Linked DNA regions of Homo sapiens: regions 2 and 3 are each linked to region 1. The links come from fine-mapping of genetic effects on gene expression. A gene starts in region 1. Each other region holds a variant in brackets. All regions are shown on one strand. Distances are from middle to middle. Region 1 holds the start of FXYD6 (FXYD domain containing ion transport regulator 6). Region 2 holds the start of FXYD6-AS1 (FXYD6 antisense RNA 1). Region 3 has its middle 13 kb from the start of DSCAML1.

Evidence for each region. PIP is the estimated chance that this variant, and not a neighbour inherited with it, causes the effect.
Region 2: its variant is fine-mapped to the expression of FXYD6 in whole blood (TOPMed, PIP above 0.99).
Region 3: its variant is fine-mapped to the expression of FXYD6 in whole blood (TOPMed, PIP 0.95).

Annotation. Positions count from the first base shown.
Region 1 is chr11:117,871,821-117,882,158 of GRCh38, forward strand. It overlaps FXYD6 (FXYD domain containing ion transport regulator 6), which reads right to left and starts at 4,838. Exons shown (of 8, transcript NM_022003.4): 1 at 4,772-4,838. FXYD6-FXYD2 (FXYD6-FXYD2 readthrough) reads right to left here and starts at 4,838. Exons shown (of 10, transcript NM_001243598.4): 1 at 4,772-4,838.
Region 2 is chr11:117,830,878-117,841,215 of GRCh38, forward strand. FXYD6-FXYD2 (FXYD6-FXYD2 readthrough) reads right to left here. Exons shown (of 10, transcript NM_001243598.4): 5 at 9,442-9,491; 6 at 8,904-8,953. FXYD6 (FXYD domain containing ion transport regulator 6) reads right to left here. Exons shown (of 8, transcript NM_022003.4): 5 at 10,271-10,307; 6 at 9,442-9,491; 7 at 8,904-8,953; 8 at 6,104-7,400. The coding sequence ends at 8,925. FXYD6-AS1 (FXYD6 antisense RNA 1) reads left to right here and starts at 2,841. Exons shown (of 3, transcript NR_186291.1): 1 at 2,841-3,184; 2 at 5,392-5,625; 3 at 6,291-7,442. The variant T/C (reference allele first, on the strand shown) is at 5,599.
Region 3 is chr11:117,805,483-117,815,820 of GRCh38, forward strand. It overlaps a transcript of DSCAML1 not described here. Among named protein-coding and RNA genes, the nearest start is that of DSCAML1, 13 kb to the left of the region's middle. RefSeq lists enhancers at 3,924-3,993, 4,044-4,093, 8,328-8,905, 9,695-9,774. The variant G/A (reference allele first, on the strand shown) is at 5,552.

The DNA.
Region 1 (10,338 bases):
GAAGAAATCCAGGAAGCATCAGAATGCAGTTTAGAATCCAAGTTTGTGTGTCTACAAAGACTGCCACCCTCTACTCGGCACATTCCAGCAACGGCTTGAGCTCAGGCAGAGGGTGAGACAGTACCAGGCTTCGGATGACCATCTGGAGAAGGTGCCTGCAGAGGTGGCTGCAGCCAGGTCACGCTGAGCCTGGAGTGCCTACACCATGTACCTGTGCTTATTAATAGGCACTGGTGAGCCTGGGGAGGTTTTTGAGCAGAGGAGTGGCAAACCTGGACCTGAGCTGTAACATCAGTGGGTAAAATGGAATGGGCTGAGAGGGTGGACGTTCACAGGCCATCACCATGGTCTGAGAGACTGCAGCTCTTCGGGAGAGGTGACAGGGCGTGTGAGAATGTGTGAGCCACTGCCTCCCTGTCGGGTGTGGGAGATTATATATGTGTGAGGAAGGGAACGTGTGTGAGAGTGTAAGTGCACCCGTGATTGCATGGAGGGGCTCTTCCTATGGAGGAAGAAAGTCGCAGGGCCTCCTGGTAGGATGTGGACATGAGGTGGACAGTAGGGGAGAGGAAGGAACAGGACAAGCCCATTGATCTACCTGAGCAGGAGGGCTCCAGCAAAGGAGAAACCTCAGAAGCCCACAGGGCCTGCCTGACATATGAGGGGAACATTTATTAAAAGGATGAACGAGGGAGTTTGAAACCTTAGCCTCTGGTCTCTCAGTGTGGGCCTGGCTTTGTCCTCCAGCTGCGTGGGGGTCACTGTTATTCTAACTACACCCCTTCATCCTTGGCCCTCTCTGCCCACATCAGATATTCTGAGCTGGGGCAGCCCCATTCCCATGGCCCCAGCCTGGTCCGTGGGGGCCCAGCCCCTTTCCCAGGCTGTGTGCTCCCTCCCACATCTTTGTAACAAACATGTTCCTGCGCAGCCTACAAGCTGGCTTCATCCCTTCCCAGGTCGGGACCTCTCCCTCCCCGGATTCTGGAGCAGAGATGATGCTGCCAAATTGGTTCCATGCTTTTGTTTCGGCCGGAGATGTCCTGCCTCTCATCAGGGACGGTGTCAGAGCACTGTGTTCCCGACCGGCCCCTCTCGTTGCAACTCTCCAGCTGGCCAGGGGTTCTCCCTGCAGAAGATTTCATGGACCTCCAAAATGACAGCCCAGTCCTCTCCAGTTGTCTCTTCCAGAGAACAACTCTTTAAAGAACCCCCCCCAACCGCCGCCCGCCTCCAGTGTGCAGCCTGGTAGAAAAGGCCAGGTAGACCACAGCATCCAGGAGGAGGTGGCTCCCTCAGCCCTAAAGAAAAAAACTTGGTTTCAGCTTCTAGGGCACCTTCTGCCACACTGGGTGAAAAGGAAACTTTCTCCAGGGTAACCAGAGCCCAGCCCCTTCCTGCTCAGCTCAGCTCAGCTGCAGCCCTGTATTATGAAATAATGAGTACTATTTGGTACCTGGAGAGAAAAGGGATCTCTTTCAAGATTGTATAATCCACACAAATTTAGAGGAAGACATGCCTTGGAAATCATGAGTCTAAACCCCACTATTGACAGATGCGGAAACAAAGGTCTAAAATCCGAAAGGCTTTCAGTTGCTGAAGAGCAGTCCAAGCCATTTCTGGATTTCACCAGAAGCCCAGTTTGCATCCAAAGGGATATTTGTGCAATGAACGCATTTGCCTTTCGGTAGCACGGAAGCTCAGGGGGAGAGCTGGGGCTAGAACCCGGCCTTTCCACAGCAGGCTCCCTGCCTCCTTGGGGCTGTGCCTTTCTTGACTGGTTTGCTTCCCTTAGGGTGCTCAGAAGGTGATTTGTTCGAAGGTGAATATTGGGGGGCTGCCTGGCACAGTCTGCCATCCAGATGGCGGCCGACTAAGTCCAACAAGGTTGGGAGGAAGAGAGGAGGTGCTCTTATTTAGGGGAGATTTCGGTGGGTGGACTCCCCCGAGGCTGTCGGGAAATTTCCAGGGTCTAGGAAACTGCCCTTTCTCCCCCATCTCCTTGCCACAGCTTCCAGCCTCGCCTTCCAAGAAAACATAGTGAAGCAGGCTCCTCGGTTGTACCCGCCCACTAAGGGACCCTCACTTTGGAAGGGCGTCCCAGTCACCAGCCGACCAAAGGCTCTCCCTCCATAGGTTTCCATCAACCCACCATCTCTGATGGTGACTGAGAAAAGAAAGCAAGGGTTGCAGGACAGGCAGTGTGAAGGCCAAAATCCTGGCCGAGGAGTTAGAAGGCCTCAGCGACTACTGGCCACGTGACTGCTGAGCCTCAGTTTCCCCCACTGTGTTCCCACTGGATGCTCCCTCAAGGCCTCTTCCGGCTCTGAGAAACCTAGGATTCCGATGTCAGGGATTGTGTCTCCCTCCTCACCTTCATGTCCCCAGCAATTAATACACAGTAGACACTTAAAACAGTTCTTTGAATGATTGAATGAAATCGGTCCTCAGGTCAGTCTGAAGATCCGATGGAAGCCAGGAAGGAAACGCTTCCCCCAGGCGCCTACCGTCTGTCAACCATAGAAGCCACACGTCTTGGGAGAACCCTGGCAAGCCTAGAGCCCTTTGCACACCCGCTTCCTCTCCTAGATGCACAGATCTGTTTGGAGGAGCCAGGGGGGAAGCAGGAAAACGTGCCAGGAAGAGAGGGTGGCCTGAACCCCAGGCAACGGCGGGTAGCCCTAACTTTCGCTTTCTTGACTCCTGTGGCCCCTCTCCTTCCCTCTTTCTGGTTTCCCTCCCCTTCCTGCCTCCCTGGCCTGGCCTCCTTGGCTTTCCTGGGACAGTAACCACTTTTCCTTCTCTCCTTTGTTAGGGCTCAGAGCCTCCGATGGTCCCAGAGCTGGCCTGATCCTCTGCTGGTGAGGATGACTCCCAGAGCCTCAGGCTTTCTCTGGGTCAGGGAAAAGAGCAGCGGCAGTGGAGAGATTGAAATTCTGGTCAGTGCCCAGCTTCTGGAGCCCAGCACCTGGGAATGGCTCTCGTTAACACCTGGAGCTCCGGACTGGGGCTTTGAGGAGGAGGGAAAAGGGCTGCGCCCACTCTTTATCCAACCTTCCCTTCCAGGTTTAGGGAAGGGGCTCCTCTTTTGAGGGAATCTGGCAGTGCCTTTCCCTCCACCTTCCTCTGCAGGGTTCCCAGGGAGATGTTAGGGTTTTCCTTCTGGGCTTCCTGAGCCTCCATCTCTTCCCCTCCACACCCCTAGGGAGGTGGCTGGATAAGGAAGGAAACTGCCCTCTCTCTCCCCTGCCTCAGCCCAGCCTGAGACTTATTTAGATGTACTGTGTGTGTGTGTGTGCATGCACAGTGCGCATGTAGGGTGTCAGTGTAGCATTGTAGCTGGTGTGTGGTGGTGCGGTATATATGCGGTGTGTTTGGTGTGTATGTGTGTATAGGTATGATGTATATGTATGTGTGGTGTGAGTGTGAGGGTGTGTTGATTGCGTAGTGTGGTATATGTCTGTATGTGTTTGTGGTGTTGGTGATGTGCAGTGTGTGTGAAGTGGGTGGTGTGAGTAAGGGGCCACTGCAATTGGGTGTAGGAGCCAGATATCTAGGTCTCCTAGCCAGGGATAACCAGTATCTAGGCAACCATACTGGGGGGAGGGGAGGAGATATGGAGGTGAGGAATGGGCAGGAGAAAGAGGGAGGCTGAGAAATGGAGGAGTTTCCATGGCAACGACCAGGCAAGTCACGTGCAAAAGGCTAAGTTGCGGACGTAGACATACACATCCATAATATGAGGGTGGCTGGATCCCCAAAGGGGGCTCCTTTCAGAGAGGGCCTGAGATGCCCACTGATCCATCTTCAAAGCTGGAAATCTTAGCCCAGCCAGACAGCACGAAGCCACAGAGACAAAGGAAGTAGTGGCAGAGAGCACACTGGTGGGGAGAAGCCTCCAGTAGCCACGGTCCCGCGAGCGTGCAGGCTTGCAGCAGGTGACGCGGCAGACCCATGTTTCCAGCGAGGCTGCTCCCAGCTCCCACCCTCGGGTGCCTCCTCTACCAGCCACCACTTGTAAGAGCCAGAAGCCAGCGCTGGGAGCTCCAGGCTGCACACCCAACTCTCCACGGAAGCCCGGGAGACACAATAGGGGAGGCTCTGCCAGGGCCAGCCCTGCTGGGGAAAGGGGGCAATGGCGGACCCCAGGGCCCCCCGGAAAGGAAACAGGATTGGATGGATAAGACAAGAAGGAGGGAAAAAATGATGCACTCTCATGAATCCCCGAGCGCTAGAATCCTTCTTTCCCTGCGCCCCCATCCTGTGCCCACTGCCCAGCCCCACCTTCCCCAAGCACCAAACCAGCAAGTTCCATTTTGTGTCGCTCATAAGTCCACACTCACACCCAGCCACACGCCCTCGTCCGTAATTCCCCACGCTCCACCAAGTGTCCACAGCTTCCAAGTAACAAAGGGAAAACTCCTCATGGATAAAGGGTGGGCGCAGCCCTTTCCCCTTCTCCTGAAAACCCTGACCCCAAGCTCAAGGCAGCACCGAGAGCAATTCCCAGCCACCAGCGTCACCCCCAGCGCCACAGCCTGCCTCCCCTAGAGGCTCCTCTCTCTTCCGACGCCGATCTCCTTGTTTACATCCCCAGCCCGGTTTCCCGCTGCCCAGGCGGGGACCGCGGCGCAGCTGACCGCGGAGGACCGCACACACCCACTGAACACACAAAACCCGGCGCTCCCGGCGCTCCAGAGATCGGTCCCCACCGAGCCTCGCCCCTCCTCGGAAAAAGGAGCCAACTTTGCCCACCTCCCCAGCCGCCTACCTGCACAGCCGGTCCCCTCCGAGACTCCCAGGAGGACCCGCCGAGTCCCGAGGAGCCTGGGAGTGGCGGGGCTGGGGGCAGGGCGGTGGGTGAGGCTTGAGCTGCTTTCCCGCCTCCCCTCCTCCTAGGAGTCGGGCTGGCTGGGAGGCGCGTCCTGCGGGGGCGGGGGGGGGGCTCGCTCGGGGCTGGGCTCGGGGACAGCCCACTCCGTGCTGCCGTCCGCTGGCTTCTGGGTAGCGGCCGCGCGCAGACCCCCTCTCCTCCTCTCCCTGTCCGTCCTCCCGCTCTGTGCTCGCGCGCGTCCTCTGCTCCTCTCTCCTCTCGAGGGGCGGAGAGATTTTTCCAAAGGGCAGTCAAGCTCCGAGAAGCAACAGGAGACTGCCGCCGAGGAGGCGTGCAAGCGCCGGAGCGGATTTGCCATCAGCTGTTGCTTTTCGGTTTCCCTCTGGTTAGGGTGGGAAGGGAGCAAGACAGGCACAATGACAGACCTGGTGTCTCTCTGCAATAGTAAACCCCGAGGAACGGAAAAATAGGAGAAAATAACCCAGCACCAGACACAGCAGCCCACGTTAATTGGGAGCCTTGGTAATTAAGGGGAATGTGCACCAAAAGCATGAATGGCTGTGTCGTGGGCGCAGGAGCCAGCTCCAGTTGTAGTTGTCATTTTCAGCTAGAGCCAGGTGGGGAGCTGGGGGGATGGTCCTTACCTGAACCATAGATCTGCTGCCTTGAACCCCCTTTTCAAGCCCCATCCACCTCTGGCCCTGCCAGGAGCAGTACCACCCCGTCCTCAGCCCAGTCCCCAAGAGTCAAAATTCATGATGACGAACTTTGAATGTGAAGATGTAAATAAATCCTGGCTCGGCAACCCTGCCTGTGACGCGACTTGGAGCATATCTCTGCACTCAGCTCCTGAGTCTATTTCCTCACGTGGGAAAATGGTGATTAGAGACTGACCCCATGGGAGGCTTAGCTCATAGTGAGTGCTCAAGAAATTGGCTCTTACTATTAGGGGCAGAGCTTGTAGGAAGGGGCAGAGGCCAGGCACAAGTGTCAGTAGCCAGGAGCCATGCTGAGATGGAGGCTGTCCAGCCTCAGTCAAGGTGTGTGTATGGCCGAGCCGGGTGGAGGGAGGAGCTACTGAGAAAGGCTGTGATTGTCCAAGCCTAGGTAGGGCCACGGAGAGTTCCTTACAAACCCCAAGCCGGGGATGATGGGTACTGCTAGGAAGAAACCTAGCCCTGCCTCTGCTGCCCTCAGTTCTGGGCCTGTTTTCTCATTTGGGAAAATAGGGAGATGGACTAGATGATCCTGAGGTCTCTTCCAGCTCTGCCCTAGATGATCTAATTATTTTAATAAAAGGTCAGGTCTCAAAACCCCAAGGCAGGAAATATACATGAACTCAAGAAGACTTTGGAACCAGTAGGGGAACCATAAATAGCTACTGAGAAAGAGCACCCAAAAAGCCTCCCCTCAGGGGATAGTTCTGGCCCCTTAATCATGGGACCTGGCTGAATGGATGCCACTCTGGCCCAGTCCTGAACTCCCTGGGGTTCCTGTGAATGCTAAAGCTCCTTCTCCAAAGCCAGACTCAAATCTTGCCTATTTGCGTGCCTAACCCTTTGCCGTTCCTGTCTTTTCCTCTATAAACTGAGGACAGCATTCCAACTGTCGTTTTCCCTTTTCATGTATTCTAGGTGGCAGATTTAAAACCACATCCCTTTCTAGGCCCATGTCCTTAGGCAGGTACATTCATCCCTCCAAATGCCCTTGAATCCTGCCTTTTGGCCATCTCTCTGTGCTTTTTAGAGCACCTACTAGTGATGACACGTCAAGCCCAGGCTTTGCAAGCCTATTTGGGAAAGGATAGTTCAGAACTCCAAAGCCAAGCCACCTTCTGGTTCAACCCCATTTCCAGCCAGAGAGTTCTGAAGTGTTTGGCCCAGTGACTTCCCAGGTCCCCCTACCTAATGCTGACCAGCCCAGGCTGCAGAGGGATAACAGGAACTAAATGTGCATGAGAAACCGCCATGGCTTAACTCTCAAATAGTGCTTCATCACGTTCCATCCAAGGGTACTGCTGGAAGAATTTGGGGTGTTACAGCTACAAAGCAGCACGCAAGCTTGTTCTGGGGTGAGTCACATCTCCCTTCTAGCAGGAAAATAAACACATCTACCCCCTGTGAAAAATGTGGGCATTCATAAAAAGAGGTCGCCAGCTGTTCCATTCTTTCAACCACGTATGGACAGGAGGAGCTACTCTTCACTGAGACCTGGGCCAAGATCTGAGGATATACTGTGGAGAGGAAAGATGTGGTCCCTGGGTGAGATAGAGATTTAGCAAATGTTCCCATGAATAAACGTGTAATTAAAACACAGTTCAGAGCCCTGAAGATATAGCATTTGAGAAAGGTCAGGAGATGTTAAGAAGATGAGGTAAAGGAGCCAAGAATTGGGATGTCAGGGTGGGAAGATGATTCTGCCTCTGGAACAGAAGCAGTATGTGCAAAGGCCCTGAGGCAGAAGGGGCATGGTGTGAAAGGAGCCAGGGTGGGACTGGCCCAACAATTCCTGGTGATTCCAGCTTTTATCCTGGGAAGCACTGATGGGCATCATGAAAACTGTTCTGAGCAAGAATTGGTGAGAGGTTGGGTTGGGATGTTCCTGGTGGACCCTGCAAGTCAGGGTTCAGGGGGCTGTGTGGGGGCAGCACTAACATGAAGCTGAGAAATAAGCCTGATCCCCACTAAAGAATCCTGCTTCTTTACAAGCCCAAAGAACAAAAAAAGATCCAGGGCAGGGCTGCGCAGCCATGGAGAAAGTAGGGTAAGAAAGGGTGGAAACCATTCCTGAAATACTCCCCACCCGCCAGAACTGGAACCATGGGAAGACCTGGAGCTGGAGAGGACAGCATAACTGCTGGGAGCATCAGGGACTGCTCTATGCTTTGAAGCTTGCTCTGGGCTAAGTAACTCACAAATGTGCAGCTAAAATCCCATCTGGAGAGGACTTGCCCTGGTCCCCTTGTATTGCAGCAAAATAGCCCTTCCGCATGTCAGTGCCCTGGTCACACAGCCACGGACAGGTCACAGAGTGACCTCCTGTGTCCTGGTCACACCGGACATGGAGGGCCTAAAGGGGAAGTTAAAGGGGAGAGACCAGGAGTCTTAGAAGAGACCCTCACCCCTCCTAGCAGGCATCCCTTCTAGTGGGGTGCCACTTCATCCTGGGGTGGGGCTGCAGAAGGGAGCCGATCTTGCCCACTGACTGCTACTTTGTGTCCATGCATACCCACTTGGCTTTGCACAGGTGTGAATGTGTGTCCTCCCCACTCAGCCAAATGCCAAACCCCCAACCCCTAGGACAGAATCGTTTCCTAGCTCCTTGGCTGAAACAGCTCTGCTCACTTCCAAACCACTCCTTGATCCTGGGTCCCTTCCTCTCTCTCCAACCTTTCTTTGTCAAACTCCTCCAACTTCTCCCTCAAGCAGCTGTGTTGAGTCCTTGGTCATCTTATGCAGTTGCTAGACAATCTAAATCCACAACCAGGGTTTTACCACCCGCTTAGGCTTGATGAGTCCACAATATCCAGCCCGGTCCTCTCCCCAGGAGACCCAGGCAAGTAATCCCAGGGAGTCAGCACCGCCCACTCCCAATCCATCCTCCCAGTCCACTCCCTATCCATCCTCTCACGGCTTGAAGCCGTTCCCTCTCATGTCTTCTTTGAATTCATGAATGGCACTGCCCCCAATCCAGTTACCCTGCAGAACACATGCCACGCTCAGACCTCTCCCCCAGTGCCTCCTTTCCTGCCCACCACTCCTGTTCTAGGTCAGGTCTCTGGCATCAGATTCTCACTGGTGACTCTGCCACAGTCCCCCTACCTCTAGGTAGAGTTATCTTCCCCAATACAAATGCGATTCAAAACTTCAATGGCTCCGTATTTTCTACGAGTTAAAGTCAAAATTCTTAACACGACATTCAGCCTTTACAACCTGACACCCACCTGCCTCTCCTGCTTCATCTCGTGACCCATTCCCTGCCCTATTTCCCCCCATCACCCTCATCACTCCAATCCTTGTAAATGTCGTGTCCCAGACCAAAAGAGCCGTGCACAGTTATCCACATACGCTGCCTGATTCCTACCCCCAAATCTTTGTTTACATAGTTTTCTCTGCTTGAAACATCCTCTGCCTCTACATCCTCTGCCTATTTTCTCTACTTACAAGAATTCTACCTATGCTGCAAAGTTAAATTCAAATATTACCTTATTAAAAATGAAAGCTGTCTTATCCATGCTGTAATTAACAGCATTGTGTCTCTACGTCTATAATTGCACTTATCATAGCCTGAACTTTGCTATGTTTACTTGCATGTGTCTGCTGCCCTAATAGAATGAGAACTCCTTAAGGTCAGACCTGGCCTCTCACTCCACTTATAGACCCCACTATCATGTGTGGTGACCCACTTATAACTTGTTGAATTTAAGTGAATTGTAGTTGTTGACTTGAAGGACTCTGCCTGGTCTTGCTCCAACCAACTTCTCCACATTCATTTTGATCTCCAGCCAGCAACCTCCTGCCTTAACCAAAGGTCTTAGCCGTAAGTCTTCAGAGAGTCTTCAGAATTGGTTCCCTGAGTGCTGATACCCTGTGCCTAGACCACACTTGTGAAATTCATTAGCTTTGCTTTCTCTTGCCAAGATGAAGAGAGGAAGTAGTTGGTGCTCGAGGCCACAGCCAGAGGAGAGATGGATAGTGAGCCTCACAGGGCTGTGATCATTTCAAATGAAGGCCTTCTCCTGAATGGTGAGTCCTGGGGACCTCCCAGGCCAGACTGCCTCCAGAGGAGGAGCAGGTAACCATCGCACTGACCTGGGGGATGAAAAGCAGGTATTCCCTGACTACTCACAGAGCTGTCGGGATAGGGTGGCAGACACTGCTCGGTCCCTAGCCAACTTCGGTTCTCTTCTTTTTCCTTTCTGTCAGAACATTTTTTCTAACTGAGCAGCAGTATGCTCAAACTACTCATTTTCTCAGACTCCTTTGCAACTCTGGGTGTCCATATGACCCAGTTCTGGCCAAGGAGATTAGAACAGCATTGCTCCAAGAAAAATACAGTGGTATGTTTCTTTTGCCCTCCGCCCTTTGTTCTTTCCTGTCTTCCTCCTCCTCATTCTTCTTCTTTGTCAGAAACATGGATGTGATGCCTGGAGATGAAGCAGCCATTTTGCAACCATGAAGAAAATAAGTATTTGAGTAAGGATGGCAGGACAAGAAGCTGTAAGAGCCGTCAACAACATCTGAATGGCTTCATCCCAGATTCCTTGTTATGTGAGCAAATTCAACTCCTATTACATAAAGTGACTGTAGCTGGTTTTCTGTTCCATACAGCCAATACAAGCCTAACTGATGTACGTGGGTTGGAACAGCTGGGGAGGACAGGCTTTCATCCTGAGAAAGCAGAAATTCAGCACAAGTCCTTCTCCTCTAAAAGTGCTTGACCTGCCACTTGCAGCCCAGTAACACACACCTGACACGTACCCACACATCAGAAGAATAAACACC
Region 2 (10,338 bases), 41 kb before region 1:
TCCCCTAACCTCCCCTTCCTTCTCCAGCCCAGCAGCAATTTTCAGAAATTGTCCTGTTTGTTCTTTGGGGGAAGCCCAGGCATTTGTTAAGTCAAGCAGGTCCCACCCCTCTCGCTTCACTCATGTTTAAGTCCTTCTCAGACTTCCTTCCTGTCCTCCCCCAGCTAGCTCAGGTCATGGGTCCTAGCTAGCACTGGGGACAGGGAACCCCTCTCTGAGACACCTGCTCTCCTGCAGAGAGGTTGCGGCCCTTCCACCTGTGGCCCATGTTCCTGAGAGCAGCTCAGTTCAGGAGGGTCTCTCCTCCTAGACACCACGCAAGGCACCCTGAGGGCCAGACACACCCATGCATAAATCCCCTTTCATCCTGAGACTTTGCTGAGGACTGCCTGACCCTGGGCAAGGGCACCCCTCTGGGTCTCCTCCCACCTGTAAAATAGGGTAATAACACCTACCTTGCAGTATTGTTGTGGGAACAGAGGCAAGGTAGGTCAAGCGTTTGGCCAGAGAAGGTCCTAAAAACTGATGGCTGTGTTTTCCTTACTCCGAACTGAGCCCCCCAGGAGACAAGAACACTCACAGCAATCCCTTCCCTTGGCTCAGTCCCCAGTTGCGGTGATCTCTAAAGCAGGCCTCTGGGAGCACCCTGCCCTGGTATGATCCTGCTGGCCACAACTCACCCTGCATCTCCAGCCTCCCTTTCTTCTCCACACAAAACCAAGAAACCTCCTTTGTCTAATGGTTCCAGGATGGAGACAAAGGAGCATCCAGCTGTGCTCTCCTGTTCTCTGCAAGACCCAGAGCTCTGGGAGATGTTGGGAGGTAGAGGCAGTGCCCACTCCTGGATGCGTCAGCACTGTCACAGCTGATGGGACCGTGCCCTCAGTGGCGAGGCCTCCATCTCCCCTGTCTCCCCTAGGCAGGCCTCCCTTTTGTCTCCTGACTCCTAAGTCTCAGGGCAGTCATTTGGGGTGGTCGTTGCTGGGTTGGTGGGGCAGGGAGGAAATAGGCTGGAATCCAGCTGACCTCTGTTTTCCTGGTGATCAAAGGCAGAGGCCCTCACCACCAGCTTCCCAGAATGGGGTTCTCCAGCTCCGCCAGCTCTGGCCTTTGTGGGAGTTTACAGCCTTGAACTCCAGGTCCCCAGATCAGTTCCTCCTGGTGTTGGCTTGCAGCTGGAAAGGGGCTCCAATGAAGCAGAAGCCAGAAGCACCTAGAAAGCCATGACCCCAGGCCCAAGTCAGTCCTCAGCTGCATAACCCGTATGGCCACTGGGCAGGGAAAGTGGCAGTTCCCAAGCCCCATTTGTCCCACTCAGAGGTCCTGAATCCTGAGGAACGCTGGCTCCTGCCTCCTGCTATGGTTGCAGGTGCCAGGTCCCTGGGGTCTTATAAGGCAGGGCTGGAAGGAGGTGGGCCCCAGAGGGTCCATTCCTTAAGTGTTGGCTTCAAGAAGGCCTGAGCCATGGTGCACAGAGGTTCTGAGAACTGCCAAAGGGCAATGTACTCTGAGAGTCAAGGTCACCAGCTGGTGACAAGGGCAAACCCATTTGACCCACCTCCCCCACAGTGAATGCCTTGGAGAGAAATGCATTCTTGACTGTTCTCAGAACTCACATCCAGGCTTGAACCACAACAGAGCCCATTCCTCTCCAGCTTTTCTTGGTTTTCTCCTCCCAGTAACCAAACTCCCTCTCACCTCTGGGAGAGGCTCGCCACCTCCGGGAAGACCTCGCGGAGCAAGCCCACCCCTGGTTACTCTTACCTTCCCTCCACCACCTTCCGGATGCCACTGACATGGCTTGAATGGCCAGCATGTGGCCGTGTCACCATTCTCTTCATTTATAGCACAGATTGCCAAGTCCCTGGCCTCCTTGAGGCCTCAGGTCGGGTAAGCTGTTAAACGTTTGTACCTGCACTGAGCCTGGTGCCCACTCTCCACACTTGGCAGCAATTCCACCCTATTCCAGGGTCTCAGTGGTTCCAAAGAGCTGCTTAGAGCCTCCCAACAATTCAGCCAGGCAGGCTGTGAGATGCCCATTTTACAGAGGACACTGCAGGTGGTCTGCAAACAGGTCAGAACATGAACCCAAGTCTAACAGAGACAAGAGGAACCCGGCCATCAGAGAATGAGGAGACAAGGAAATGGATAGTGATGCCAACATTTATAGCATAATGGCTACATGGAGAATTGTCACGGTGCTTCGATGTCCATTGTATCACTTTGACCCTGTGAGATAACAGAAAACATCTTGATGCATTTATTTTATAGGTGATGAAACTGAGGCTTAAGTGGCTTTTCCAGGGTTACACAGTGAGCAGGAGGCCCAGCTTACCCCAAAGCTAGGAAGGACTTGATTATTCAGAAAAGGAAACTGACAGAGAGGCTGGGGTCTTTCCAAGCTCACACTGTTAGAGCAGAAGGGACCTCGGGGATGTTCTGAGCCTCAGGCTCTACCAGACTGCCTCCAAGCCCAGCTCAGAGGTAGGAAACCGTTCTTCTGGATAGTGCAGGGGGGCCCACCCCCTCCAGTCCCTGCCATCCAGGTCCTTCAGGACATGCGATCACAGCATCACCTGCTCTGCCATCATTGCCTTGGCAGGTGCCCCACTGTTGTGCAACCAGGCCCGGGGCTGGGCTGGCCCCATCAGATCAACAGCTGGTTGGCTTGAGCCGGCTGAGTCTGCCCCCCTGGAGCTCAGCTGTGACAGCAATAAATCACACTAATGGAGAGAGGTGGCCATTCCTTCTCTGTGGCCTGGAGACAGGTTTTTCCAAAGCTCCTCCCCTGGCTCAGGCAAACACACCTGACCTTTCTCTCGCTGGGCCCAGGGTGAGGCAGAGCAGCCAGGAACAAGGTGGGGTGAACCAGACAGAGCTGGAGTGCTCTCCCACCCCTGCTTTGCCCAGCCTCCCCGCCAAGCCCATGATTCCAAGCAAGGTAAGGCCCTCCTCCCAGAGGAAGGGGCCAACAGCCCGGTGACCTTGGAGTGTGCTTCGCCTGGCACTCCCCTCACACCGCTCCCTACAGCTTGTACTCTGCCTCTGACTCTCTTCCAAGAACAATTTGGCAAGTTCTAATCTACATCTTGCAAAAAAAAAACAAAAAACAAAAAACAGAGAGGTAGGAGGGCCACAGCACCTGGGGTCCCAGAAGGCAGACTGACCTATTCCTACAGCAGGGGTAAGTAACGCAGAAAACCTCCAGGCAAAGAGACATGGAGATCTTCGAAATGGAATGGGGGGTGGAGGGAGTCACTGGGAGGCAAAAGGTGTGGGACACCTGAGGTTACTGAGACAGGGAACTTGGGATTCCCTTCTGGGAAATGACACAGCATGGCAGCTGTCCTTCTTATTCAGTCAAGCTACATTGCCTCATTAAACCAAATCACAGCTACAAACCAGTGCCACATGCCTGGAGGCTGAGTGGACACTCCTGGTCCTCCTCATGGAGATATATAGCACTCTGAGTTCTGATCCAGCTCATCTGTGTGAAGTCCTCAAACAAGCACATAGTAAGTGCTCCATAAACTTCAGCTGCTCATTTTTTTTAATTATTACCATTTTGACCATCATTTCTTCGATTGTTCTTCATGTGTCTTGTTTCCAGACCATTAGACTCCCACAGGAGGCTCCTTGGAGCATGGTCCAGCTAGTTTATGTCTTGAAGGGGCAGCCATGCTCCAGGTGCAGTCTTGGGAGCCATCTGATCACTGTCCCTTCTTCTGAGCATCTGCCTGCTGAAGGAGGCTAGGCCATGTGCTGACAAGCACTATGGACAGACAGCCCGGGGTCAAGTCCTAGCTCCTCCATCCCCCAGCTGTGTAACCTGGACCAGGACGATTGTATCTCTGACCAATCTCAGAATATAGCTGGATTACTAGGAGGAAAACTAAGTGAGTGCTTAGAGGCGGGCAAAGTAAGGATAACCATTTGTAGATGATGTGCTAGAGATGCTGACCATCATTCCTTACTCTTAACATAATTATTATGAGAAAAATTAGAACCTCCTCATTGGACTTCCTTATTCCTATGTCGAAGTATAATGTTCTGTTTTTACTAACGTATGGGGGGCGGCACACACAAAGCTTTGCATGTCTAGGGCCTCTAGGGATCTCAGCCTGGCCTCGCTATGAAATTTCTGCAAGGCCTGTCAATTCCCTGATGTATCACGAGTGTTCCCGAACAATAAGCTCATTTACCAGGTCTTGCTGTGACCAGATAGTTTTTAATCGCCATGATCACTGGGTTGACAGGTTGAGCTTGAGCTCTACCATAAGCCTGTGTCTTTCCAAAGGCCTGGGGGACCGAAGGCAGAAGCAAGAGCACACGTAGAGAAGGCACCGAGCAAGCGGATCTGTGCGGTTCTTCGGTTCTAAACAACTTGCGGAATCCAGGCGGACTCAGGGCCTGTGTGGCCACTGGGCAGGGAAGGTGGTGGTTCCCAGGCCCATCGAAACCACAAGGAGCACTGACTTCTGTCTCCTGCTATAGCTTCAGGTGCCAGGTTCACTGGGGTCTTAGAAGTTGGGGCTGGAAGGAGGTGGGCCCAGAGGGTCCCGCTCCTTAAGTGCTGGCTTCAAGATGGAAGATATTAAGACGTTCCAGGGGTCGATTCTTTTTTCAAGACCCTAAGATGTTCCAGGCTTCTGTAGAGCAGGCACAGTCCTTGCCCTCCAGGAATTGTATCAATAAAGACACAAAACACTAGAGGCAGAAGCTGCACACAGGCAACCTCCACGCAGAATCTGCCCACATCTGTGTTGGTTTGGCCAACAGTGGTTTTTAGAAAGTTGAGTCAGAGTGTCTTTGGGAGGACACCGTAGGTGACTGCAGGTGCCATGCCCCATCGTCACTCCAGCAGATTCACATATTGGCATTACCTGCCTGGTCTCTACAGTCTGGATGCCAAGTATGAAGTGTGAATATAAAGGCAGCAAACAAGTGTGATTGGGGCACAAGAAAGGGATTCGGCTGGGCGCTGTGGCTCACGCCTCTAATCCCAACAATTTGGGAGGCTGAGGCAGGCAGATCACTTGAGGCCAAAAGTTCGAGACCAGCTTGGACAACATGAAGAAATCCCGTCTCTACTAAAAATATAAAAATTAGCCGGGTATGGTGGAAGGCACCTGTAATCTCAGCTGCTCAGGAGGCTGAGGCAGGAGAATCGCTTGAACTCAGAAGGCAGAGGTTGCAGTGGGCCAAGATAACGCCACTGCACTCCAGCCTGGGCGACAAGAGCAAAACTCCATCTCAAAAAAAAAAAAAAAAAAAAAAAGGGATTCGATTCTACCTAATGCCCAGGGAGGCTCCACAGAGGAGGGGTATTTCACAATCCACGTCACCCACCCTGTCACTCCCTTGATCCCTTCCTTCCTTTTTTCTTTTTAGAGACAAGGTCTCATTCTGTTGCCCAGGCTGGAGTGCAGTGGTGCAATCACGGTTCACTGCAACCTGGAACTCCAGGGTTCAAGCAATCCTCCTGCCTCAGCCTGCCGAGTAGCTGTGACAACAGGTGCGAGCCACCATGCCCAGCTAAGATTTCACCATGTTGCCCAGCTGGTCTTGAACTCCTGGCCTCAAGCAATTCTCCTGCTT[T/C]AGGCTCCCAAGTTGCTGGAATTACAGGTATGAGTCACCACCCCTGGCTCTCTTTACAAGTCCTTAGGTAGTGGCCCCAGAACTGACCAAAGAGAAATGTTAGGATGTTTTACTCCAGGCCACTGAGTACTTGGAGAAGCCATTGTGACTCCCTTTTTTGCTCCAAGACAGTGTGCAATGTACAGGTCCTGCTATGGGATGTGGCTTGAGCCCAGTGGCCTGGGAAGGCGGGAGAGAGGGAGGGAGGAATAGAAATGGCGGGAAGGTGCGGGACGAAGGGCTGAGCAGGAGGAGAGGAAAGTGAAGGAAGAAAAGGAAAGGAGGGAAGAGAAGCGGGGAGGAGGCAACAGTGACAGCAGCTGACGGGGCTCTGTGCCTGCCTGGGTGGCTATCCAGTCCTTCCTCTTCCCTCTGACCATGGACGGACTCCCTCTAGCCCTTTAAGTTCCACAGACCCTACAAACACTCAAGTTCTTTCACAGAAAGGAAAGCACCTCCGAGCCACTAGGAAACAAAGGATATTTTATTCCTTTTTTCTGTTGTTGTTGAGGATAGATCACGATACAGAGAACAGCAATGGGTCACAGCGCACGGTTTGGTTGGTTTCCGCGGGAACACAGAGGACAGGAGGGGCGGGATCTGGGTTGAGTTCCCACTCTCGTTATGACCTTCAACCTCTCACTGTTCCCAAGGGCTGCACGGAGCCTGCTGAGTCTCCAACCCACCTCGCTCACCGCTCTGACCACTGACAGGCAGAGCAAAGGATGCGGGAGTTGCCTCTGCTGCCCATCTAAGGGGACGTAGGCAGAGAAGCAAAGGCCTCTGCTCTCCCTCCATCCATCCCGGTGTGCTGGCCCCAACGGAACAGGAGTCCTTCAACTATTGCCTGCCAGAGACCCAATTGCAGGGACTGTAGTCTGCATCTGGATGAGCTGGGCTGTAGATTGAAGTCTCAGAAGCAGGGAAGGTTGGAAGGGGTAGGGTCCCAGAGCCCATGGAGTTATTGCTGAGAAGATATGCAGGGGACACATTCCCCAGGGGCAGAGTAGAAGCCCTGGGCCTGGAATCCCCGGGCGCTCTGTGAAGGGGCGGGGCAGATGGGGACTCCTCGTGGAAGCCCCTGGGAAGAAATTAACCACGGAAGGGCATAGCCTGCCTGACGTCAACGCTGGGCTCACCAGCTCCTTGCTTTGTATCTCCAGTTGCTAAGAGACCTTCAGACTGGGATCAGGTGGGATAAGGAAGCAAGGTTTTTGTTAAAGGAGTGAAAGGAGTCCATGAAGAATGATGACAAAGTGCTGCAAACCTTCCCAGGTCCCAAGACGACTGAAGACCACTGCCCGTGCTCTTACCCTACGCATCCCTAAATCAGGGGAGGGGGCTGGTCTCGGGCAACAAGCAGCCTCCTAGGAGCAGAAGGTGATGGAGGGCCACGGGGGCAGGGAGGAGCAGATGGCCATGTGGCTCAGCCCCTGCCTGGGAAAGCGAGTCCACAGTTCACTAACAAACACAATACCATCCACAAACAAGTAGCCACAAAGACCACAGTTAGCAAACACACACAGTCACACACACACACACACACACACACATCACGGGAGGTGGGCAGGACCGCAGGCTGCAGTGGGGAGGCAAGTGTTAGTTGCATCATCAGGTGGAGGAATGGTGTTAGAGGGGATAGGGTGGGGGACACACAAGTTCTTGGCTTCTCCTGGGGAAAGGGCTGTTGCTGAAGTGGCCGGTTTTCTTAAGCATCGACATTTGCATCCAAAGGTTCAAGCAGCCGCCTCAGGTTCCAGAGGCTGAGGAGGAGGATAATTTAAATTAAAAACACTTCGGCTGCCTCTGGTATCCTTATCTGCTTCTCTCCCTTCCTTGAGCACCTGCCCACTGAAATTCCCGGTATGACAGCCTCGTCTGAGACGCAGAGAAAGGAGACAAAGACACAGGGGAGGGGTGAACCTCAGAAGAAGCCTCTCCCAGGTGGGCTGGAGCCTGGCAGACATGGAAAGGAAATTGTTAAACCCAGGACCTCCCCAGTGGTTGCTCACAGTCCTGAGCCTTAGGATAAAAGGTTTCTGAGAAAGAACTAGTTTGGGAAAAAAAAAATGAAAAGACATTTCATTTCCAGGCTGCCTCCTCTGAGCCTTCCCAGATTCTCAGTCTGTGATGAAATAGACAGAACACCAAGCTACCAGGAAGGGCACCTGCCTCCTAGATCGGAATCTTCGTCCATTCGCACTTAGGTGATCACTTGCCTTCGAGAGCCCCATCCAGAAGACGGGAGTAATGAGCCCTGCTCTGCCCATCACGGGCCGCTATGAGGATGCAAAAGCACTTAGGAAAGAATTTAAATGCTACACAGGCACACGATATTGTTACGCACAGTCAAAGCTGGTGCATCGGGCACTTCATCATCCAGAAACCTCTTTTACCTTACAATGTGAGATAAACTTATATACCTTTCTATAATGCCTTACTTGTATGGGGGGAAAAAAAGGCAGAAGTGAGCTGACAAAACACAAACCTTTTCCCTTAGGATATTCCAGGGCATGTCATAAAGCGAGACGCACAGGACAGAGGGGAGCAGTGGCGCTGAACCACAGCCGCAAAGGCCTGAGTTCACAGTCCGGGCTGTCACTCTCCACGGGGCTATTCCCTCTCATCTTGGTTTCACCTATAAAATGGGCTAAACCCCACCTGTCCCATCCTCTTTTTCTGGCAGACTCGAGTGAGTCTGTGTGTGTGGTGGCACTCTGAAAACTGTACAGCATTTGCCAGTTACTACTCTCCTGTGCCCCCTACGATGAACAATGGAAATAGATACTAAAATCAGTGCCCTTAAATGTGGAGAGGGAAGGATCATATACTATTTGCTCTACTTTTGGTTAGGGTTGGGAAGTTTCATAATAAGGTGTTTAAAAAAACAAGTGGCCCTAAAGTACTTTCTGAGTCACCACGGAAAGCCATTATCTTTATGCTACTTTGAGATTAGGAGCATTTCACTAACTCTAATTCTCCCATGTTGCACTTGGGATGACGCCCTATGCACTCGGCCAGTGGGCTGTGTGGAAGCCCCATTTCCTGGTGTTGGCATGCATGTGTGTGGGACACTTCGGGTGTTTCTAGTCCTGGTCTCTCTCACAGCCCCTTTCAGACTCCTGAAGGCTCCTCAGGGCAGGGCCCATAATAAAAGCTGTGCCCACTGCAAAAGCTAGCCCCATCCTTCCCGCCTGAACCCCTGTCCAGGCCCTGATGCAGACGGTGATGGCAACAGGGGCCAATCCAGGCACTGAGCATCTCACCTTCCACCTGATGGCTGCACTTCAGTTCTCTGCTTTCTGGGGCTCTGTTGCTGGAAAGAAAACCAGAATGGATTATAGTGTATAGACTCCTCACCCCCGTGGGCCACCCCCAACAGCAGCCGTGTCTCTGCCTGACTCTGGGGGAGCAAAGAGGTGACGGGCATGGGATTTCGAGTCAGAACGATCTGGGTTCAATCCTGGCCCTGCTACTTGCTGCTTACAGGAACCTGGTAACCTCTCTCAGTCCCTCGGTTACAAAATGGGGACAATGATGCCTATTTCAGGGCTGTGTGCCCATTAAATGATATGGGGTCTGTGCCTGGCACAAGCAGATGCTCTGTAAATAGCAGGTGACACTAGTAGTAGCCTGTTTGGTGGAGTGAGGGGGCAATGCTGCAGAGGCCCTGGAGACCCACTCTCCTGGCACTGCGGGAGCATGTCTGGCTGGCCATGCACCTGGCAACAGTCCCTTCCTGAGCCACAGAGGGGTCTCTCTGTTCCCTCTTTTCCACCTGGGCAGGTGGTCACGGACAGTTACCATTGGCGGTGATGAGGTTCTCCACCTGGGCTTCCTCATCTCCTGGGGCCCTGCAGGAGAAAGAGACACACAGCCCCATCAGAGATCTCCAGGGCAGACCCAGAGAGCATCGTTCTGCTCCTCACTGGGGCACAGCTGCCTGCAGTCAGGCTCCTCCCAGTGCCCTGAGGGGCTGGAGCTCACTCTGCTGTGGGATGCATGGGACAGAGGGAAAGGTCTGGACTGAAGGGTCAGACTCAGAGGGAACTTACAGGCACCCTTCAATGTCAGCCCTCATGGGAAGGGGAGGCTAGGGCCACATGGGGGCTTGGGTGTGTCCTGCCACACGCTTTGGACTTCTGGGGTCCAAGCTACCCTTGGCTATTATAGTAAACTAATGGGGTATGACCTCTATGTGGGAGTAGAAAGAAGGTCCAAGTGTCTATTCAGCTCAAAGAGCCTCATGAACAGGTGACAAGTGGGGACTGTGTCGCAGGTCCTGTAGAGAGGACCTGGGCATCTAGAGAGGCCAGGAAGCCCTCTGCTTCCCTTCTCCCAAGCTCAACTGTCCCAAGGGCCTCCAGAAAAGGTTCCAGTACTTTCTTGTCCACTCCCCGTCCCCCACATAGATCAGAAGAGACAGGATGGGCTGACCTTCAATGTTTTGACCTCTCCTTTGCCCCAGAGTCTACCTGGCAGTCCTCAAACTTCCAGCCCTACGTCCCAACACACACGTTCTGCCTCCGAGACAAGAATCCAAGAGAATGCCCATTTGGGGGTCACACACCAGGGGTCCCTTCCTGTCCCACCTAGTATCACCCCCCCAAGGCCACTGCCACGGCATCCTTACCGGGGCTTCTGATTGAAACTGCACTTGCACCTGCGACCTGAAAAGCAAAGAAACCATCCAAGGTCATG
Region 3 (10,338 bases), 66 kb before region 1:
CAAATAGGTTTGGAAAACAGTGGAATAATCAAAGGTAAATAGGTTTTTGTGGGAGTTGTTTTTGTTTTTGTTTTTTACTGCAGGCTTTAACACGCTGGTGGGCATTGTCAATCTCCAAGTGCTACAGTATGAGGTTTTGGGGGATCCATTTCCCACTTCTCCTGGTTAAAAACTCTGTTCTTTCACTGTTTCTGGTCCACACCTGGCCTAAAGGAAGTACATTTTGTTGGTTTACTCATTCTTTTGGCAACTCTGTGCCCAGCCCCTGTGCAAGGAGTTCCCCGATCCCTGGAAAGTCTAGCACAGAGTCCCTGCCCTCAGGAAGCTTGCATTCCAGTGGAGTAGAAGATGTTTAAAGAGCAACACAGGGAAGCCTACATGCTCAGAGTCAGCAGGTCAGAGTGTGAAGGGACCTGGGGAGCATCTCCTGCAAGTGCCTAGGAAACAGTGGCTGGCAGGTGAAGGGCGTCCCAGGTCACATGGCAGAGTCAGGGCTTAGGTCCAGGGCTCCTGACCGCCTGGCCTGCGCTCAGCTAAGTGGTGTTTACCTCCCTCCTAGGCCCTGTTGCCTTCAGACTCTTGCCCACCTTGTTCACCACTCCATCCTCAGTACCCAAGGCAGGTCTTTGATGACTGTTTGTCGAATGAAGCTATGATGATGTGGCTGGGTTGGATGATCTTTACAGTCTCACCTAGGGCAAGGGGTTCGATAAGTCTGTGAAGAGAGCTGCTTAAGCTCAGAGAAAGGAGTGGTCAGTAAAAACCAAGGTAGGATGTGAGTTGGGCTTGAGCAATGGGAAGGATATGCAGAGAGGCAGGGAAAAGGCCTCCCTGCAGGGGCTCAGGAAAGCCTGACTCTATGGTGTGTCTACCCATCTGAGACACCCACACATCTGGCACATGGCAGTTCAGAGCTGTGTCCTCAAAGACTCATCGGTCCAAACTCTGAGCTGAACTGGCGGGCTAATTGTTTGTCTGCATCAGCCAAAGTAGCTTCTTCTTTTGGCAAATCATAATCAGAGTCCTGGACTCCTACTAATAACAATGATTATAATTGAGCACTTGCTGTGGGCCCAGCACTATGCTAATTACTCCAGATGCATAATCTCCAAACAACCCTATAAGACTGGTATGATTATTATCATCCCCATTTTACAGACAGTGAAACTGAGACATAGAGAAATTAACTAAGTTGTCCAATTCACGCAGCGTCAGATGCTCAAGGCAGTCTAATTTCAAACTCATCATTCTATGTATTGACTTTGGTGGTGGTGGTAGTGTTACTGCTGTTACATTTTTTAAAGTTTGAACATGGAAAATTTCAAGAATATACAAAAGTGGGGAGAACAGTATAACGAATTATTATGCACTCATTTCCCAGATGCTACAAGAGTTGACTCATGGCCAGTTTTTTGTTTCATCTATGCTCCCCTCCCATCACCATGAATTTTTCTGAAGCAAATTTCTTGTGTTACATAATTTCATCCATTGATCATTTTGTGTGCATCTCTCAAGGATGAGGCCAAATCCTCTTTCTCAATCACAATACTTTTTGCCTCCTGACTGAGAAGTTCCTTGGCCGGGGCACCCGCTTCCCCCAAGCCACACGCCAGATTTCAGGCTAGCCACTTCCCCACACAGTGGGCACAGAGGCAACAGGCTCAGCGGGTAGCCTGTCCCCAGCTCCTCACCACACAGCCTGACCAAATGGCATCTCTCTGCCTCCTCAGAGTGAATTTTTATCGCTGAAGCCCCTGCCATCAGTCTAGTTGCTCTGCAGATGGGGAACTGGATGTGGTGGTCTGCCTGGTGGGGTTGTTGACACAAGGATGAGTCTTTCTTGACCAGGCCTGTCCTAGGCTCCAACCCTGGCCTTGCCCCAAATCCCAGTACCTACTTCAGAATGATTTGGGGGGTGGGAGATCTCCTCTGCCTGGGAGGAAATGACTCCCCACTCCGCCCAGCCTAAGAGCAAGAAGGGATGAGATGGAGCCAAGAACCTGGAGTCAGAGATTCACCGCACTTCTCATGAGCTGGGAGGACCAAGTCTCACCTTTTTGGTCTGTGGAAGTGGGAACAGAACACCGACCCTGCAGCGTGGCTGTGAATGTCTAAGGAGATGGGCAAGTTTTCTCCGCAGAGTTGTTTAGCTAGAGAAGGTCACAGTACCTGCCATGGCCAGCAGGTGTCGCCCAAAGACTGAGTATGAGAAACCTTTGGGCGGGATGGGGGCTCCTCCATGGAGATTATCTTTCAATATTAGATACAGCTGGACTTGGAAGAAGTGGAAGAAAATTCAGCCTGAAGGGTTTCTCCTTTGAAAACTCAGTCTGGTTCTGGCTTTCGTCGGAGTTAAAAATTGGAGCTTTGCAGTTTTCACCCAGGCTAGAGTGCAAAGGCGTGGTCTCGGCTCACTGCAACCTCCACCTCCTGGGTTCAAATGATTCTCCCACCTCAGCCTCCCGAGTAGCTGGGACTACAGGTGCATGCCACCACACCCAGCTAATTTTTGCATTTTTAGTAGAGATGGGGTTTCACTTTGTAGGCCAGGCTGGTCCTGAACTCCTGACCTCGTGATCCGCCCGCCTAGGCTTCCCAAAGTGGTGCGATTACAGGCGTGAGCTACCGCGCCCGGCCTGCAGTTTTCAAAGTATGCTCACATGAAGATACCACAGCAAGACAGACATCAATATCCGCATGTTACAGATGAGGAAATTGAGGCTTCAGAAAGAGAGTGACTTGCTAAAAATTATGCAGGCACTAAATGACAGAGCCATTAAGTGACAAAATATAGAATTAGAAGGCCTTCGGACTCTATATTCTGGGCAATCTGCCGACACATTCCTATGGGTCAAACCTTTAGGAGGAGTCCTGAGACCATGGCTGGGCTGTCCCTGCCCCTCTGGAAAAGATAATAGGCGCATGCCCGAAGCCCCTGGCATGCGACATGCTATCCCCTGAGAGCATTTGCCATCTCTGGGTCTCAGTGGCTCCGAAACCACACAACTACACATGCACACAGGCACAGGTGAGGTGAAGGAGAGAGAGATCCCAGACTACAGAATCCGGGATCTGTATTTTCTGTTTCCCAGTATTTGGATGTAAGAAGCTTAGCATAGGTCTTGGGGCTGGCATTTGGGAAATCCTGAACTAGAAGATAAACTAGAAGGTTTATGTTCTGTAGTTTCATAAACACTATCCACTTAAGCTTGTCAAAAACACTAATACAGTGTCTGGCACATACTTGATAGTCAACAAAAATTTGCTGAATAATAAATGGCTGAAAAACACGCAATCACCCAGCCCAGCAGAAGCCTTGGTGAACACTGCTTCATCCCTCACCCACTTTACATGTTCGCAGCACTTTGTGGCGTACATATCTCATTTACACACATGATCTCGTTCAATCTCTTTAATGAGTTGGATATCACAAACCCCATCTCACAGATGAGAAAACTGAGGCTCCGAGACACTAAAGGACTTCCCCAGGGCTGCCCAGGTGGTCAGTGACCGAGCCAAGCTCACGCCCACGCCTGTCTACCCTGCTCTAGCAGCTCCGTCACTGCCCCGCCCCTGCTTCATATCATTTCCACTGCGAAGCTTGAGAGGAGGAAAAATCCATCCAGAGAGAATGAATCTTCCAGATCCGTTGGGAATGCCTCAGATTTAGGAGAGGCGACCTCAGGAGTTTGCCCTGAGACCCCAGGCTCAGGAGAAGTCTTGCCTCATTTGGCGAAGGGGCTCAGTGCAGACCTCCAGGGTGGGGCAGGTCCTGGGAGGCCAGCTGCCGCGTCTGCACTCCTGGAAAGTGCAGTGTGGGAAGGGTGGGAGCTGTGGGAAGGGAGGGGAGCCCTCCTCCCCGCTGTGCCTGACTCCTTGGGCGTGGCTCTGATGGCTGGAGAGGACAACCCGCCTCCCTGGCCCACTACTGGATGTGTCTCTGCGGTCCTCCGCGGAAGGAAGCTCCAGGCCTCCGCACTGGGAACCTGGTGTCTGCCTCCCCCTAGTGCCACAGGACAGGATGGTGGCGCCGCAGGCTGCTGTGCAGTACAACATAGACGGCGGCCACTCAAATTCTCCACTACACAGGTCCTGCCCTTCACCCCAGTCATGTCTCGCAGTGAAGCCGGAGGCTGGGCTCACTCCCTGCCCCAGCCTGTGTCCTTGCCAGCCTCTAAGAACTACTGGAGGGGACCAATGGTGTCCTCCAAAACAGACCTCTGATTCTCAGCTGAGGAGGCTGAATCGCCGCGCAGCGCTCCAGATGCTAGGTCCACCCACGCAACCCTCCTGGGTTGCTCTGCTCCTCCCCAGTTCCAGCTCAACTAGCAACGCACAACACACACAAACTCACACAGTCACATACACACTCACACTCACTTACACATTCACATACTCTTACACACACACACCCACACACTCACACACACATTCACACATTCACACACACGCATATTCACATACACACATTCACACACTCACACATTCACACACACTCATACACACATTCACATACACACATTCCCACACTCACACATATTCAAATATTTTCACACACATTCACACTCACACACATTCACACACTCACTTACACATTCGCACACACATACACACATTCACATACATACATATTCACATTTCAATCTTGGCGCCACACTTCAATCTCTCCCTTCTCTTAATTTCAATTCCTTTCATTTTCTGATAGAGACAAAGGAGACACGTGGACCCAAAACTCCGTGGACCCAAACTCCGTGGACCCAAAACTCCGTGGACTCAAAACTCCAGCGCCCTCTGGGGGAGGGGCAAGTACCCCTCAACCCCTTCTCCTTCACCCTTAGTGGCAAGTCCCGCTTTTCTAGGGGGCAAGAACCCCCAATCCCTTATTTCCGCACCCCGACCTCTTATCTCTGTGTCCCAATCCCTTATTTCCGCACCCCGACCTCTTATCTCTGTGCCCCAATCCCTTATTTCCGTGCCCCAACCCTTTCTCTGCTTTTCTGGAGGGCAAGAAACCCCCACCCCCTTCTCCGTATCTCTACTCTTTTCTCTAGGCTTGCCTCCTTCACTATGGGCAAGCTTCCACCTTCCATTCCTCCTTCTTCTCCCTTAGCCTGTATCCTTAAGAACTTAAAACCTCTTCAACTCTCACCTGACCTAAAATCAAAGTGTCTTATTTTCTTCTGCAATGCCGCTTGACCCCAATACAAACTCGACAGTAGTTCCAAATAGCCGGAAAACAGCTCTTTCAATTTTTCCATCCTACAAGAGCTAAATAATTCTTGTCGTAAAATGGGCAAATGATCTGAGGTGCCTGACGTCCACGCATTCTTTTACACATCAGTCCCTTCCTAGTCTCTGTGCCCAGTGCAACTCGTCCCAAATCTTCCTTCTTTCCCTCCCGCCTGTCCCCTCAGTCCCAACCCCAAGCGTCGCTGAGTCTTTCTAATCTTCCTTTTCTACAGACCCATCTGACCTCTCCCCTCCTCGCCAGACCAAGCTAGGTCCCATTTCTTCCTCAGCCTCCGCTCCTCCACCCTGTAATCTTTTTATC[G/A]CCTCTCCTCCTCACACCCGGTCTGACTTACAGTTTCGTTCTGTGACTAGCCCTCCCCCACCTGCCCAGCAATTTACTCTTAAAAAGGTGGCTGGAGCTAAAGGCATAGTCAAGGTTAATGCTCCTTTTTCTTTATCCCAAATCAGATAGCGTTTAGGCTCTTTTTCATCAAATATAAAACCCCAGCCGAGTTCATGGCTCGTTCGGCAGCAACCCTGAGAAGCTTTACAGCCCTAGACCCTAAAAGGTCAAAAGGCCATCTTATTCTCAATATACATTTTATTACCCAATCTGCTCCCGACATTAAATAAAACTCCAAAAATTAGAATCTGGCCCTCAAACCCCACAACAGGACTTAATTAACCTCACCTTCAAGGTGTACAATAATAAAAAAAGTTGCAATTCCTTACCTCCACTGTGAGACAAACCCCAGCTACATCTCCAGCACACAAGAACTTCCAAACGCCTGAACTGCAGCGGCCAGGCGTTCCTCCAGAACCTCCTCCCCCAGGAGCTTACTACAAGTGCTAGAAATCTGGACACCAGGCCAAGGAATGCCTGCAGCCCAGGATTCCTCCTAAGCCGTGTCCCATCTGCGCGGGACCCCACTGGAAATCGGACTGTTCAACTCACCTGGCAGCCACTCCCAGAGCCCCTGGAACTCTGGCCCAAGGCTCCCTGACTGACTCCTTCTCGGCTTAGCAGCTGAAGACTGAGGCTGCCTGATTGCCTTGGAAGCCCCGTAGACCATCGCGGATGCCGAGCTTTAAGTAACTCTCACAGTGGAGTGTAAGTCCATCCCCTTCTTAATCAATACGGAGGCTACCCACTCCACATTACCTTCTTTTCAAAGGCCTGTTTCCCTTGCCTCCATAACTGCTGTGCGTATTGACAGCCAGACTTCTAAACCTCTTAAAACTCCCCAACTCTGGTGCCAACTTAGACAACACTCTTTTATGCACTCTTTTTTAGTTATCTCCACCTGCCCAGTTCCCTTATTAGGCCGAGATATTTTAACCAAATTATCTGCTTCCCTGACTATTCCTGGATTACAGCTGCATCTCATTGCTGCCCTTCTTCCCAATCCAAAGCCTCCTTTGCGTCCTCCTCTTGTATTCCCCCACCTTAACCCACAAGAGACCTCTACTCCCTCCTTGGCGACCAATCATGCACCCCTTACCATCTCATTAAAACCTAATCACCCTTACCCCACTCAATGCCAATATCCCATCCCACAGCAAGCTTTGAAAGGATTAATGCCTGTTATCACTCGCCTGCTACAGCATGGCCTTTTAAAGCCTATAAACTCTCCTTACAATTCCCCCATTTTACCTGTCCTAAAACCAGACAAGCCTTACAAGTTAGTTCAGGATCTATGCCTTATCAACCAAATTGTTTTGCCTATCCACCCCATGGTGCCAAACCCATATACTCTCCTATCCGCAATACCTCCCTCCACAATCCATTATTCTGTTCTGGATCTCAAACGTGCTTTCTTTACTATTCCTTTGCACCCGTCATCCCAGCCTCTCTTCGCTTCACTTGGACTGACCCTGACACCCATCAGGCTCAGCAAATTACCTGGGCTGTACTGCCACAAGGCTTCACAGACAGCCCCCATTACTTCAGTCAAGCCCAAATTTCATCCTCATCTGTTACCTATCTCGGCATAATTCTCGTAAAAACACACGTGCTCTTCCTGCTGATCGTGTCCGACTAATCTCCCAAACCTCAATCCTTTACAAAACAACAACTCCTTTCCTTCCTAGGCATGGTTAGTGCAGTCAAAATTCTTACACAAGAGCCAGGACCGCACACTGTAGCCTTTCTGTGCAAACAACTTGACCTTACTGTTTTAGCCTAGCCCTCATGTCTGCGTGCAGCGGCTGCCACTGCTTTAATACTTTTAGAGGCCTTTCCTACAAGGTCTGAGAAGGCCACCACAGTCATTTCTTCCCTTCTGTCAGACATAATTCCTCAGTTTAGCCTTCCCACCTCTATACAGTCTGATAACAGACCAGCCTTTATTAGTCAAATCAGCCAAGCATTTTTTCAGGCTCTTAGTATTCAGTGACAGACTAATGGTCTATTAAAAACACACCTCACCAAGCTCAGCCACCAACTTAAAAAGGACTGGACAATACTTTTACCACTTTCCCTTCTCAGAAGTCAGACATGTCCTCAGAATGCTACAAGGTACAGCCCATTTAACCTCCTGTATAGATGCTCCTTTTTATTAGGCCCCAGTCTCATTCCAGACACCAGACCAACTTCGACTGTGCCCCAAAAAACTTGTCATCCCTACTATCTTCTGTCTAGTCATACTCCTATTCACCGTTCTCAACTACTCATACATGCCCTGCTCTTGTTTACACTGCCGGTTTATACTGTTTCTCCAAGCCATCACAGCTGATATCTCCTCGTGCTATCTCCAAATTGCCACTCTTAACTCTTGAAGTAAATAAATAATCTTTGCTGGCAGGACTATGCTGAATCTCCATAGGCACTCTCTAATTAAATGTCCTAGGTCCTCCCAATTCTTAGACCTTTTATACCTGTTTTTCTCCTTCTCTTATTCCATTTAGTTTTTCAATTCATACAAAACCGTATCCAGGCCATCACCAATCATTCTACATGACAAATGTTTCTTCTAACAACCCCACAATATCACCCCTTACCACAAGACCTCCCTTCAGCTTAATCTCTCCCACTCTAGGTTCCCACGCCACCCCTAATCCCGCTTGAAGCAGCCCGGAGAAACATCGTCCATTCTGTCTCCATACCACTCCCCCAAAATTTTCACCGCCCCAACACTTCAACACTATTTTGTTTTATTTTTCTTATTAATATATGAAGGCAGGAATGTCAGGCCTCTGAGCCCAAGCCAAGCCATCGCATCCCCTGTGACTTGCACCTATACGCCCAGATGGCTTGAAGTAACTGAAGAATCACAAAAGAAGTGAAAAGGCCCTGCCCCGCCTTAACTGATGACATTCCACCATTGTGATTTGTTTCTGCCCCACCTTAACTGAGTGATTAACCCTGTGAATTTCCTTCTCCTGGCTCAGAAGCTCCCCCACTGAGCACCTTGTGACCCCCCTTCCCTGCCCACCAGAGAACAACCCCCTTTGACTGTAATTTTCCATTATCTTCCCAAATCCTATAAAACGGCCCCACCCCTATCTCCCTTCGCTGACTCTCTTTTTGGACTCAGCCCGCCTGCACCCAGGTGAAATAAACAGCCATGTTGCTCACACAAAGCCTGTTTGGTGGTTCTCTTCACACGGATGCGCATGAAACTTAGTTCATAATTGGCTAAGCCAGGGCTCAAATCCAGGTCTGCTGATTCCAAAGCCTGTGACCTTAGCTGTGAGGCCAAGGAAGAAGGGATCACGCACACCTCTGACCACCCCAGCTGCCTACCCTGACCCCACAACTTCCTTGCTCCTGGAGGCATGGAGCAGGGACAGGGGTGGTCCACCTGGTTGGTAATCAATCACTCATTCATTCCTCTACTCAACCAGTCACGTGTGCACTCAGTAAACATGTATGGAGGGTGCACTAAGTGCCCAAAGGGGGGTGAGGCACTGGGATCGGTGGGTGAACTTTCAGATGCAATCCCTCCCTCATGTAGCTTATAAGCAGTGGGGCCTCAGATGTGAAGGCAAAGCTCAGAATTCAGGGGATTCAGGGTCCCCTGGCAGGTGCCCAGGGTGCTAGAGAGAGCAGGTCAGGAACACTCTTGAACAGCGGAGGCCCAGCCTGGCTCGTCCCCCTCCTGCCCCCTGGGGCGGGTGTCTGCGGCCTCCAGGCTACTCCTGGATGATTTTATTAGCTGTGTTGGGAGCATATGGTCCTCGGACATGAGACCTGAAGTAGTATTTACTGGAGAGCCGAGGACACCGGGTTCCCGTGTGGGCTGGGTTTGGCACGCACTCGGTTACTGATTGATAGGCCATTCAGGAAACAAAGACCACAAGAGAATTCAGCATGCTCCTGGCTCGGGGCCAAGCCAGCCTCATCTCCTTTGCTTTGTCAAGTGTGTCTTTTTGTCTGCCTTCATCACTTGCTGGGCGCCTCTGTGTTCACTGCCGGGAGGAAGCCAAGTGTGTATTTGCAGGGGCTGTGGGGGTGTATCCAGCTTTTCTCTAAGAACAGCTATCCAAGGGGCGGGAGGGAACAAGGGGGTCAGCCACAGCTCTCCCCTTACCCCTTCCCCTGAAAAGTCACAGCTCCTTGACGTGTGAGCTGAAGCTTGGGACTTTTGTCTTGTGTCTGTTTTTTCCAAAGCCAAGTCCAGAGACAGACCAGGGCCTTCCCAAGGTCACACAGCAAGCCAAGGGCAGAGCTGGCAGTGAAACCAATTTTCCACCTTCCACGGTGTGGTCTGCACTGAGCTGCAGGCAGGGCTTCCGGGGCCACAAATTGCTTCCCCAGCTCAGAACATTGCCCTCTTCTCCCCTCCCTGCTGCCCTGCTCACCAGGGGGAATTCCTCTCAGTGACACCAAAGAAGCCCTTTGGGGAAGTGACAGTGAGCATTTCTTGAAAAGGGAACCAAGTTTAGACATCTAGAGACAGTAGCAGCCGCGGTGACTGGCGGCCTCCTGGGGCTGAGGAACTTCGGGGTGTCACTCAGGGTGACAGCAGGTAGCCCAGCAAGCCCATAGGAGCAGGACAGGCCAGGCTGGGCCTCCACTGTTCCAGGACTGTTCCTGACCTGGTGTCACCTGCACCCTGTGAAGGGAAGCTCAGAATTCAGGGAGACTCAGGGTCCCCTGGCAGGTGC